Linked DNA regions of Homo sapiens. The protein of the gene in region 3 purifies or fractionates together with the protein of the main gene of each other region. This does not show direct contact. Each region holds a gene or a part of one and is shown on either strand. Other genes may lie near its edges.

What was found. Proteins that work in one complex are often made in the same cells at the same time.
Region 1: the proteins of KISS1 (region 3) and KLHL26 purify together in Homo sapiens (affinity purification with mass spectrometry; one large-scale study listed by BioGRID and IntAct). This does not show direct contact.
Region 2: the proteins of KISS1 (region 3) and VARS2 purify together in Homo sapiens (affinity purification with mass spectrometry; one large-scale study listed by BioGRID and IntAct). This does not show direct contact.

The regions. Positions count from the first base shown.
Region 1 is NC_000019.10:18,640,028-18,643,527, forward strand, and holds part of KLHL26 (kelch-like protein 26), read left to right. Parts: intron 1-3,500. UniProt on the Homo sapiens protein: May play a role in endo(sarco)plasmic reticulum (ER/SR) mitochondrial signaling. May be part of the ubiquitin-proteasome system (UPS) and affect ubiquitination and degradation of target substrates in cardiomyocytes.
Region 2 is NC_000006.12:30,924,238-30,926,959, forward strand, and holds the end of VARS2 (valine--tRNA ligase, mitochondrial isoform 2 precursor), read left to right. Parts: intron 1-116; coding exon 117-323; intron 324-1,036; coding exon 1,037-1,148; intron 1,149-1,306; coding exon 1,307-1,482; intron 1,483-1,642; coding exon 1,643-1,771; intron 1,772-1,871; coding exon 1,872-1,973; 3' UTR 1,974-2,222; downstream 2,223-2,722. UniProt on the Homo sapiens protein: Catalyzes the attachment of valine to tRNA(Val) in a two-step reaction: valine is first activated by ATP to form Val-AMP and then transferred to the acceptor end of tRNA(Val).
Region 3 is NC_000001.11:204,193,692-204,197,776, reverse strand, and holds the start of KISS1 (metastasis-suppressor KiSS-1 preproprotein), read left to right. Parts: upstream 1-1,285; 5' UTR 1,286-1,401; intron 1,402-4,085.

The DNA.
Region 1 (3,500 bases), on a different chromosome or scaffold from region 3:
ACTGTGTCCGTCCATACAATCTCGTATGGACGGACACAGTTTGTTTATCCATTAACTGGTTGATGGACTGTTGGGTTGTTTCCATTTTGACAACTGCAAATAAAGTTGCTGTGAACATCTGGATATGTGTCTCTGTGTGGACGTATATTTTCATCCTCTTGGGTAAATACTTAAGAGTAGAATGACTAGTTCATATGGTAGATGTGTTTAAATTTCTTTTTTTTTGAGACAGGGTCTCACTCTGTTGCCCAGGCTGAAGTGCAGTGGTGCAATCACGGCTTACTGTAGCCTCTACCTCCTTGGGCTCAGGTGATCCTCCCACCTCAGCCTTCCAAGTAGCTGGTAGGTACTACAAGGGCGTATGCCACCACACCCAGCTATTTTTTCTGTGCTTTTGTTGAGACAAAGTCTTGCCATGTTGCCCAGGCTGGTCTTGAATTCCAGGGCTCAAGCAATCTTCCCACCTCTGCCTCCCAAAGTGCTGGGATTACAGGTGTGAGCCACTACGCCTGGCTATGTTTTAATTTTTTTTTTTTTTTTTTTTTTTTTGAGATGGAGTCTCTCTCTGTTGCCCAGCAGTTGTTCACTGCAACCTCTGTCTCCTGGGTTCAAGTGATTCTCCTGCTTCAGCCTCCTGAGTAGCTGGGATTGTAAGGATGCGCCACCACACTCAGCTAATTTTTGTATTTTTAGTAGAGACGGGGTTTTGCCATGTTGGCCAGACTGGTCTTGAACTCCTGACCTCAGGGGATCCGCCTGCTTCGGCCTCCCAAAGTGCTGGGATTACAGGTGTGAGCCACTGAGACTGGCCATGTTTTAATTTTTAGGAAACTGCCAAGCTTGTTCCCAAAGTGGCTGTACCATTTTGCATCCCCACCAGCAATGTTCAAGAGTTCCAGCTCCTCCTCATCCTCACTAACACCTGGTATGGCCAGTCCTTAGTTTTAGCCATTCTTATAGGTGTGTGCTGGTGTCTTCATTTGGTGTTTTTATTTATTTATTTATTTGTGAGATGAGGTCTCACTCTGTCGCCCAGGCTGGAGTGCGATGGTGCGATCCTAGCTCACTGCACCCTGGAACTCCTGGGTTCAAGCAATCTTCGGGCCTCAGCCTCTGGAATAAGTGGGATTACAGGTGTGCACACCACTGTTCCCAGTCTTATTTTGGTTTTAATTTGCATTTCTCTAATAACTAATGATGTTGGACAGTTTTTCATGAGCTTCTTAGCTATTCATCTCTTTGGTAACGTGTCTTTTCAAATGTTTGGGCCATTTTTAAGTTGGGTTGCCTTTTTTTTTTTTTTTTTTTTAAGACTGAGTCTCGCTTTGTTGCCCAGGCTGGAGTGCAGTGGTGCGATCCTAGCTCATTGTAACCTCCACCTCTTGGGTTCAAGCGATTTTCATGTCTCAGCCTCCCGAGTAGCTGGGATTACAGGTGCATGCTACCACACCCGGCTAATTTTTGTATTTTTAGTGGAGACGGGGTTTCACCATGTTGGCTAGACTGGTCTCAAACTCCTGACCTCAGGTGATCTGCCTGCCTCAGGCTCCCAAAGTGCTGGGATTAGAGGCATGAGCCACCACACCCGGCTCTTTTTCTTTTTTCTTTTTTTTTTTTTTGAGATGGAGGCTTGCTCTGTTGCCCAGGCTAGAGTGCAGTGGCGTGATCTTGGCTCACTGCAACCTCTGCCTCCCAGGTTCAAGCAATTCTCCTGCCCCAGCCTCCCGAGTAGCTGGGATTACAGGCGTGTGCCACCACACCCGGCTAATTTTTGTATTTTTAGTAGAGACGGGGTTTCTCCATGTTGGTCAGGCTGGTCTCGATCTCTTGACCTTGTGATCTGCCCGCCTCAGCCTCCCAAAGTGCTGGGATTACGGCGTGAGCCACCATGCCCGGCCCTCTTTCTTAAAAGACATCTTTGTCATTCTCCCCTATCCTCCATCCTAGTGAAAAATCACTGTTTGGAGCAACTGATAGGGGCATCTCATGCCTCAGGTGCTAGTGTGGGGAGAACCCCTAATGTGGCAAGATGGAGCATGCAGAAAATGGATCATATTTTGAGGGAGATTGGTACAAGACATTCTCCCAAAAGTCATTTTGAGACATTGAGTCTTTGTAGCATTGTTCGTCTGTTCCTTCATTTATTGCAAATGGGACAGCCAGGCCTGGAGCACGACCCACCTCCTCGCCTCAACCTGCCCACGTCTCCTTCCTCTTCATCCTTCCACTCTCCAAGGTTCTGGCCCCTCAGAGCCACCTGCCTGACCATGCAAGCTCAAGTAGTCCCCAGGACACTTTTGCTAGTCACCTAGTGTGTGTGTGTGTGTGTGTGTGTGTGTGTGTGTGTGTGTGTGTTTGAGATGGAGTTTCGCTTTTGTTGCCCAGGCTGGAGTGCAGTGGCATGGTCACTGCAACCTCCACCTCCCGGGCTCAAGCAACTGATTCTCTTACCTCAGCCTCCCGAGTAGCTGGGATTACGGGCGCCTGCCACCAAGCCTGGCTAATTTTGTATTTTTAGTAGAGGTGGGGTTTCTCCATGTTGGCCAGGCTGGTCTGGAACTCCTGACCTCAGGTGATCTGCCTGCCTGGGCCTCCCAAAGTGCTGGGATTACAGGCGTGAGCCACTGCGCCCGGCTTGTGGTTTTTTGTTTGTTTGTTTGGTTTGGTTTGAGGAAGAGTCTCACTCTGTCGCCCATGCTGGCATGCAGTGTCGTAGCTACCTGCAGCCTTCTTGACCTCCTGGGCTCAAGCTATCCTTCTGCTTCAGCCTCCCGAGTAGCTGGGACTACAGGCATCTACTAACACACCTAATTTTTTTTTTTTTGAGACATTGTCTCATTCTGTCGCCCAGGCTAGAGTGCAGTGGCACAATCTGGACTCACTGCAACCTCCACCTCCTGGGTTTAAGCGATTCTCCTGCCTCAGCCTCCTGAGTAGCTGGGATTACCAGTGCACGCCACCACGCCCAAATAATTTTTGTATTTTTAATAGAGACGGGGTTTCACCATGTTGGCCAGGGTGGTCTTGATCTCCTGACCTCGTGATCCACCTGCCTTGGCCTCCCAAAGTGTTGGGATTACAGGCGTGAGCCACTGTGCCTAGCCCACACCTGACTAATTTTTAAAAATTGTTTTGGGCCGGGCGCGGTGGCTCATGCCTGTAATCCTAGGACTTTGGGAGGCCGAGGTGGGCAGATCACTTGAGGTCAGGAGTTTGAGACCAGCCTAGCCAACATGGTGAAACCGCTTCTCTACTAAAAATACAAAAATTAGCCAGGATTGGTGGCACGTGCCTGTAATCCCAGCTACTCGGGAGGCTGAGGCAAGAGAATCACTTGAACCCGGGAGGCAGAGGTTGCAGTGAGCTGAGATCGCTCCACTGCGCTCCCACCTGGGCGAGAGAACCAGACTGTCTTAAAAAATATATATATTATTTTATAGAGATGGGGTCTTATTATTATTTTTTTTTGAGATAGAGTTTTGCTCTTGTTGTCCAGGCTA
Region 2 (2,722 bases), on a different chromosome or scaffold from region 3:
TCTGCCTGTCCCTCTCTCCCAGGACCCATGGCCTGCCCCACTGGCGGGTAGCAGTGGCTGTAGGGAGGAGGGCTGTGGCCCTGGACCTGTCCTCTGACCATTGGCTTCCTCTCCAGGAGGCTGTGAAGCCCGTGCTGTGGCACTCGCCCCGCCCCCTGGGGCCCCCTCAGGTCCTGTTCTCCTGCGCTGACCTCGGCCTCCGCCTCCTGGCCCCACTGATGCCCTTCCTGGCTGAAGAGCTCTGGCAGAGGCTGCCCCCCAGGCCTGGTTGCCCCCCTGCCCCCAGCATCTCGGTTGCCCCCTACCCCAGCGCCTGCAGCTTGGTGAGTCCCAAGCACCTTGGAGTGGGTCTGTGGGTGAATGGGGGGGAGCACCTTCTGAAGGGGTTTGCTGCAGGGGGCTCATCTGCAGGAATGGTTCGTACTTTACTGTGGAGCCCTGGGGAAGATGGATTGTTCCTGCAGGGTTGCTGCGATGACCCTAGGGTCTTGAGGGACAGTATTAGCGTAGTGCTCAAGAGCAGGACTCTGTTGCTAGACTGCTATTTTTGAGCTGTGTGATCGAGCCTCAGTTTCCCGCATGTTTAAACTAGGAACAGTAATAGTATATGTTATGGTTGTGATGAGGGTTGGATAAGTTAGTAATAGGGTGTCCCCAAAATCTCAGTGCAGCTTTAATAACTTCAGAAGGATAAATGCTATGAACTCACCCAAAAATTATTTTAAAATTTAACTATTTAAATTTATACTTATTTGGTTTTGAGTTTTGACTAATTCATTTTAAATTCTAATTTATTTTTGGTTGGCCATTTCAATCACAGCAACTAAACAGGCATCAAACACTGATCATCTAAAACCTCTTAAATGACGCCTCACTTTTTGTCATGTTCCTTGAGATAGTGGATTTTCTGTGGTGCTGAGGACAGATCTCATTGCCCTAAGGAGATGGGGTGGATGGGTCGAGAAGAGAGCCAGCAGGGTTGGTACTGAGTCTCCCAGGAGCCCCTTTGCCAATTCTGGGTCCCCCCCATTGCCAGGAGCACTGGCGCCAGCCAGAGCTGGAGCGGCGCTTCTCCCGGGTCCAAGAGGTCGTGCAGGTGCTAAGGGCTCTCCGAGCCACGTACCAGCTCACCAAAGCCCGGCCCCGAGGTGAGGCAAGGCGGGTCCTGGGCTCGGATCCCTGCAGGAAAAGGGGGCTGGTGGGGAAAAGAGCAGAGCCTGAAGGGCCAACCCCCCCGTTAGGAGGTGCAGGGTAGGAAGGGAGGCAGGAGCTGAGGCCTTGCCCCTGACAGTTTCTTTCTTTCCAGTGCTGCTGCAGAGCTCAGAGCCTGGGGACCAGGGCCTCTTCGAGGCCTTCTTGGAGCCCCTGGGCACCCTGGGCTACTGTGGGGCTGTGGGCCTGTTACCCCCAGGCGCAGCAGCTCCCTCCGGCTGGGCCCAGGCTCCACTCAGTGACACGGCTCAAGTCTACATGGAGCTGCAGGTGACCAGAGGGGATGGGGAGGGTTAGGGCAGGCTTGGGAAGCATGCTGGGAGGAAGGGAGGGGCTGGGCTCTATAAAGTAGGGGAAGGGACCTTCTAATGGAGGATGGAGGCCTGGCAGCAGGCGGATGTCTGAGCCTTTTCTCCCTGTTCTTCCCCAGGGCCTGGTGGACCCGCAGATCCAGCTACCTCTGTTAGCCGCCCGAAGGTACAAGTTGCAGAAGCAGCTTGACAGCCTCACAGCCAGGACCCCATCAGAAGGGGAGGCAGGGACTCAGAGGCAACAAAAGGTAAGGCTGAGGGAGGCCCCCAGAAGGCTCCACCCCTGAGGGAATGTGGGCCAGGAGGGGCCTCATTCCTGGATCCTCACCTCCTTTTCTCCTCGTCCAGCTTTCTTCCCTCCAGCTGGAATTGTCAAAACTGGACAAGGCAGCCTCTCACCTCCGGCAGCTGATGGATGAGCCTCCAGCCCCAGGGAGCCCGGAGCTCTAACTCATCATCCCCATCAGTTTTCCTCCCTCTCAGACCTGTCTTTGAGGACAAACAGATTTGTCAGCTGTCAGGGTGCAGTGGGACGTCAGAGACTATGTGGTCCATCGCCTTCATTGTGTAAATGAGGACACAGACTGGCTTGGTCGCAGTGACTGTGGTGTCCTTGAGATGCTCACATTACTGCCCGGCCTGCCTCCCACCTGGAAGTCTGGGAATGAGGAGATTGAGATAAACTTTTGAAATCCCAAACATGTCTGTTTATGGCTCTTTGGTCCCCTTTGCTCCCAGTGGTGACTTTTGTGCTTCTGAGTTGTCCCCTGAGAGCTTGGTCTGGGAAAAGAGGAGGAGGGGTCCTCGCTGGAGGAAGAGGAACTTTCTAGTCATGGGTAGGGTATGGGCACAGTGGTTCCGGTTCTACCTACTTTCTGGACTAACTGACAGTGCCCTGGCTTTTGCAGGCTCTTTCTCCTCCACTTCTCACTAAATGGAAGCTTCCCCGCTCCTTGGCTGTATCCCTAGAGGTGCTGAGAGAAGTAGGACTTCCTCCAGACCTGATGGGCTGCAGGCTGTGCTGCAGATGGTGTGCCCCCACCTTCTGTGCTCTGACACCTGAGTGCCCAGCCTCTGAGTTACACATTCACAGCACAGCCAGCCACCTTACCCACGCCAAACACCATCTCATCTCCATGGAATTCAAGGGCCTGGCCCTTCCACGCCCAGAGTACATTCTGTCCAGCAGCTCTGAGTAG
Region 3 (4,085 bases):
CAGCGAAGTTTTGGTCTATGAGGGTCAGTGCTGTCCTCATAGGCTATCATTTCTGTCCTGGTGTTTAACAGCCCTAATGGGTGTGATAATAATATGTTTGCAATCCCCTGTTAACAGTAAGCATCAGACAAGTGAGGGGTGCTAACCTGCAGACTGCCGGCATGCTTCTCCAGCATTAGGGGACGACCAGGTTGAGCTTGTGCTGGGAGAGCGTCCTGTCTGAGGGTAGAGACATAGCCCCTGCCTTCAGAGACTCCCAGCCTGATAGAAGAAACAGTCTCTGCCCTGGAGAGCCCCTTGTCCAAGGGTATAGAGAGTTATTGCAGGCTCAAGAAAGAGACAAAAGTCACTTGCGATGCATGCAGTTAGCAAATATCTATTGAGGGCCCTCTCTGTATGTGCCCAGCAATGGAGTGGGTGCCAAGGGTACAGGGGGAAGGGGGCCTGTCCCTGTCCTCAAAGTGCTGTACCTGAGCAGTCACAAAATAGTATGGTGGTGGGTGCCACGAGACAAGAAGGTGGGGCCCCCAAGCAGGCTGTCTGGATGTGCTGCCACCTGGAAGTCCCCTCTCTGCACCCCTGGCACTTCCCAGGTGCATCCACCTTCTGCAGCTCCCATTTCGTCCTCCTTGCTCATAGCTGGTTGCTTACCTAAGGTCTCTGACCAGTCCATAGCCTATTCACCTCAAAACCCTGCGCTGAGGAAGCGCTCAGTGACCGAGGAAAGAAGGGAAGCAGGAAGGAAGGAAAAAGGAGAGAATCTCTGCCACCACCACCCTGTGCCAGTCACAGGGCGCAGTCTAGGAGCCGCCTGGAGACCCACGCTGACCTGGCTTTCCCTCAGAGCTGGGAGCATGGGATGTGAGGAGCCCCTGGGTCAGCCTGTGCCCTTCTCCTCCCCTCTTCCTGTCGTTTTCTACGTCTAATTCAGACTAGGTGTGTCTGTGGCTCTTCGGAGAGGAAACAAGACATTTCACACTGACACTTCTCCCCACCCTCCTCAGATAGCCCATTTCCACGTTGTTTGGGGGCAGGATGGGTCCTCTGGGTGGGAAGAGGGTGTGGAGGATGGAAAGAGCCGGTAAGAAGGAGAAAGTCCCGCCTCGGAGGGCTCGGGTGGGGCAGGAGGAGAGGCTGCCTCCAGTCACAGAGCCCGGAGGCAGAGGCCTCCCAAGGTGCCATGCTCTTCAGGAGGGTCTGAGGAGGAGGGAGGGGCGGCAGAGTGGGCCTGTGCTTGGAGACGTCACCCCGGGCTTTATAAAAGGGATGTGATCAGGGAGCTGGGGAGAACTCTTGAGACCGGGAGCCCAGCTGCCCACCCTCTGGACATTCACCCAGCCAGGTGGTCTCGTCACCTCAGAGGCTCCGCCAGACTCCTGCCCAGGCCAGGACTGAGGCAAGGTAGGCACACTGCAGTGTCCACCCCTGGGAAGGGGGTCTGCCCTGACCTGGGGATGCTCTGGAGGGGAGCAGGGAATCCGTTCTAAGACGGACAGATGCATCCAGGCAGGCAAAGGCAGGGGAGGGAGACACTGATCTTTCCTGTTTACCAGCCTGGCCAGATTATCCTGGGATGCCTGGGCGAATACACTGAGTCGCACTTTATTTGTGAAGCTAACACTCTGGGGATCCCGAGGGCTCTCTCTTGCTGTGGAAGGAATACATGCAATAAATAAATGCTGTGGCTGGAATTAGAGACCACAGACACGCTTGGATGGACCTAGGGAACCGCTCGGGGCTCTTGAGAGCAATGGGGCTCCTCTGAGCAGCTCCCCCCAAATTACAGATGGCAAATACAAGCCTAACCAAGGGCATCTACCTACCCACTAAGAACTAGGGGCCACTTCACTCCAGAAGCTTTCCAACCATGCCTGGAATTTCTGTCACTCACTGGATACAAACCCCCCAGGGTGGAGGGAACCACAAAAATTGTCTACAGCAGGTCGGCCACTCATGGCCCCTTTCCAAATAATTCATTTCTACCATATATGTTAAGTGCCCCGATGGGCTGGGCAGTGGAATCTGTGTGTGTGTGTGTGTGTGTGTGTGTGTGTGTGTGTGATATGTGTGTATGGGTGTATGTGTGTATATGTGTGTGATGTGTGTGCGCATGTGTGGTGTATGTGGTGTATGTGTGTGTATGATGTACGTGTATGGGTGTATGTGTGTATATGTGTGTGGCGTGTGTGTGCATCTGTGGTGTGTAGTGTATGTGTACGGGTGTATGGGTATATATCTGTGTGGTGTGTGTGCATGTGTGGTATGTGTGGTGTATGTGTGTGTATGATGTGTATGTATGGATGTGTGTATGTGTGTGTGTATGTTGTGTGTATGGGTGTATGTGTGTATATGTGTGTGTGGTGTGTGTGCGTGTGTGGTGTGTGTGCATGATGTGTGTGTATAGGTGTATGTGTGTATATGTGTGTGGTGTGTATGCGTGTGTGGTGTGTGTGGCATATGTGTATGTGTGTGTATGGGTGTATGTGTGTGGTGTGTGTGGTGTATGTGTGTGTGTATGATGTGTGTGTATGGGTGTATGCGTGTATATGTGTATGGGTGTGTGCGTATATATGTGTGTGGTGTGTGTGTGCATGTGTGGTGTGTGTGGTGTATGTGTGTGGTGTGGGGGGTGTGTGTGTGTGTGCTGGGGTCAGGCAGAGTTGTCCCATGGCGCACATGGTAAGTGCCATCCACAGTGGGAAGGAGGCACTCGGGGGGAAAGGGGAGCCGGAAGAAAGAGTACCACCCTCCAACCACACAAGCCCACTGCCCTCCTTCCTGGCCCACCACCCTGCTTCCGCACAGAGAACCGGAAATGTACATCTACCCACATTCCTGTCTGGCTCAGACCCCTCCAGGATGAAGCCCCTGCAGGGCCCCTTCCCCCAGCCTTGTCACTAGCTTTCTCTCCATGCAAAGCTCCATCCTCTTGTCTAGCTAGAGGGCCTGAAGTTCCCTTTGCACTCAGCCCCTGCCCTTGCTTCAGCGCCTTAGCACCGTCCTGGGAACACTTTCTGTAAACCTTTCAGCGATTCATGCTCAGAAACAGCTCAAGTGCCACCCCCTGCCAAAAATCTGCCTGGTCCTCCTAGGTTGGGTTCCCCTGGACTCCCATATCCCCTTGTGGATTCACATGCATCCGGTATGTCATTTACAGTGTTATTTTGAAATGATCTGCTGATGAGTTAATTTCTCATGCTAGACTTGAGATCTTGGGGGCAGCAACTCTGTCTTAGCACACCTGTGCACCCCTAGCACCTAGCACAGCACCAGCACCTAGTCGGTGCTCAAGGAGTGATTTCCAAATCAACCCAGACCCTGTGCATCCACGGTCTGAAATGCTTTTACACTATTCTCTCCAATGGATTAATCCTACCTCTACTCCGTGCCCCAGCCCTGGGCCTTAAGGTAAATGCAGAAAGCTGTGGTCTGGGTTTCAACTTGTCACAGTATCAAAGTCTGCAAGGATAAGTAAACTTCTGAGCAGGTGGCTGGTGGCCAATCTGATCCAGGGTTCTTATTTTATAGATGGACCAATGAGGTCTGGAGATGGGGGTGACTTGCTCACATTTCACAGGGAATGAAAGCAGAGCTGGGGCAAGATTCAAGTACTCCTCATTCCATTTCAGGGTTCTTACTCTTTACTCCATGCCTGAGTCCTGCAGGGAGCTGGGTGAGGAATGGGGGGTGGGGGTGTGGGTGCAAGAGCAGAGAGATGCATGGGCCTGAGCCACCATTAGGAGCTGATGGGCACAAAAGGTTCTCATCCCCCAGTCCCCCTTCCCCAGGGAGAGCGGCTCCAGGCTGTGGGTCAGGCCAGGACAATCTTTTTGCTCAGCTGGCATTGCTCCTGCCTCCCCAGCCTTTTGTCTTTAATCGTGTTTGTTGGACAGTCTCAAAGTGTCTGGTGACTTTTTCAAAAAGAAATTAGATTTGGGAGCCGGAAGAGGTAGGGTGGGGTATGTGGGGTGTCGGTGGGGCAGAGCAAGGCAGGGTGATGGGAAATGGTGTGAGGATCAGGGCACACGGCTCCCATCTCAGCAGCCAAAATGATGAGGCCAATTCAATTCATAGCCTCTTAGAGT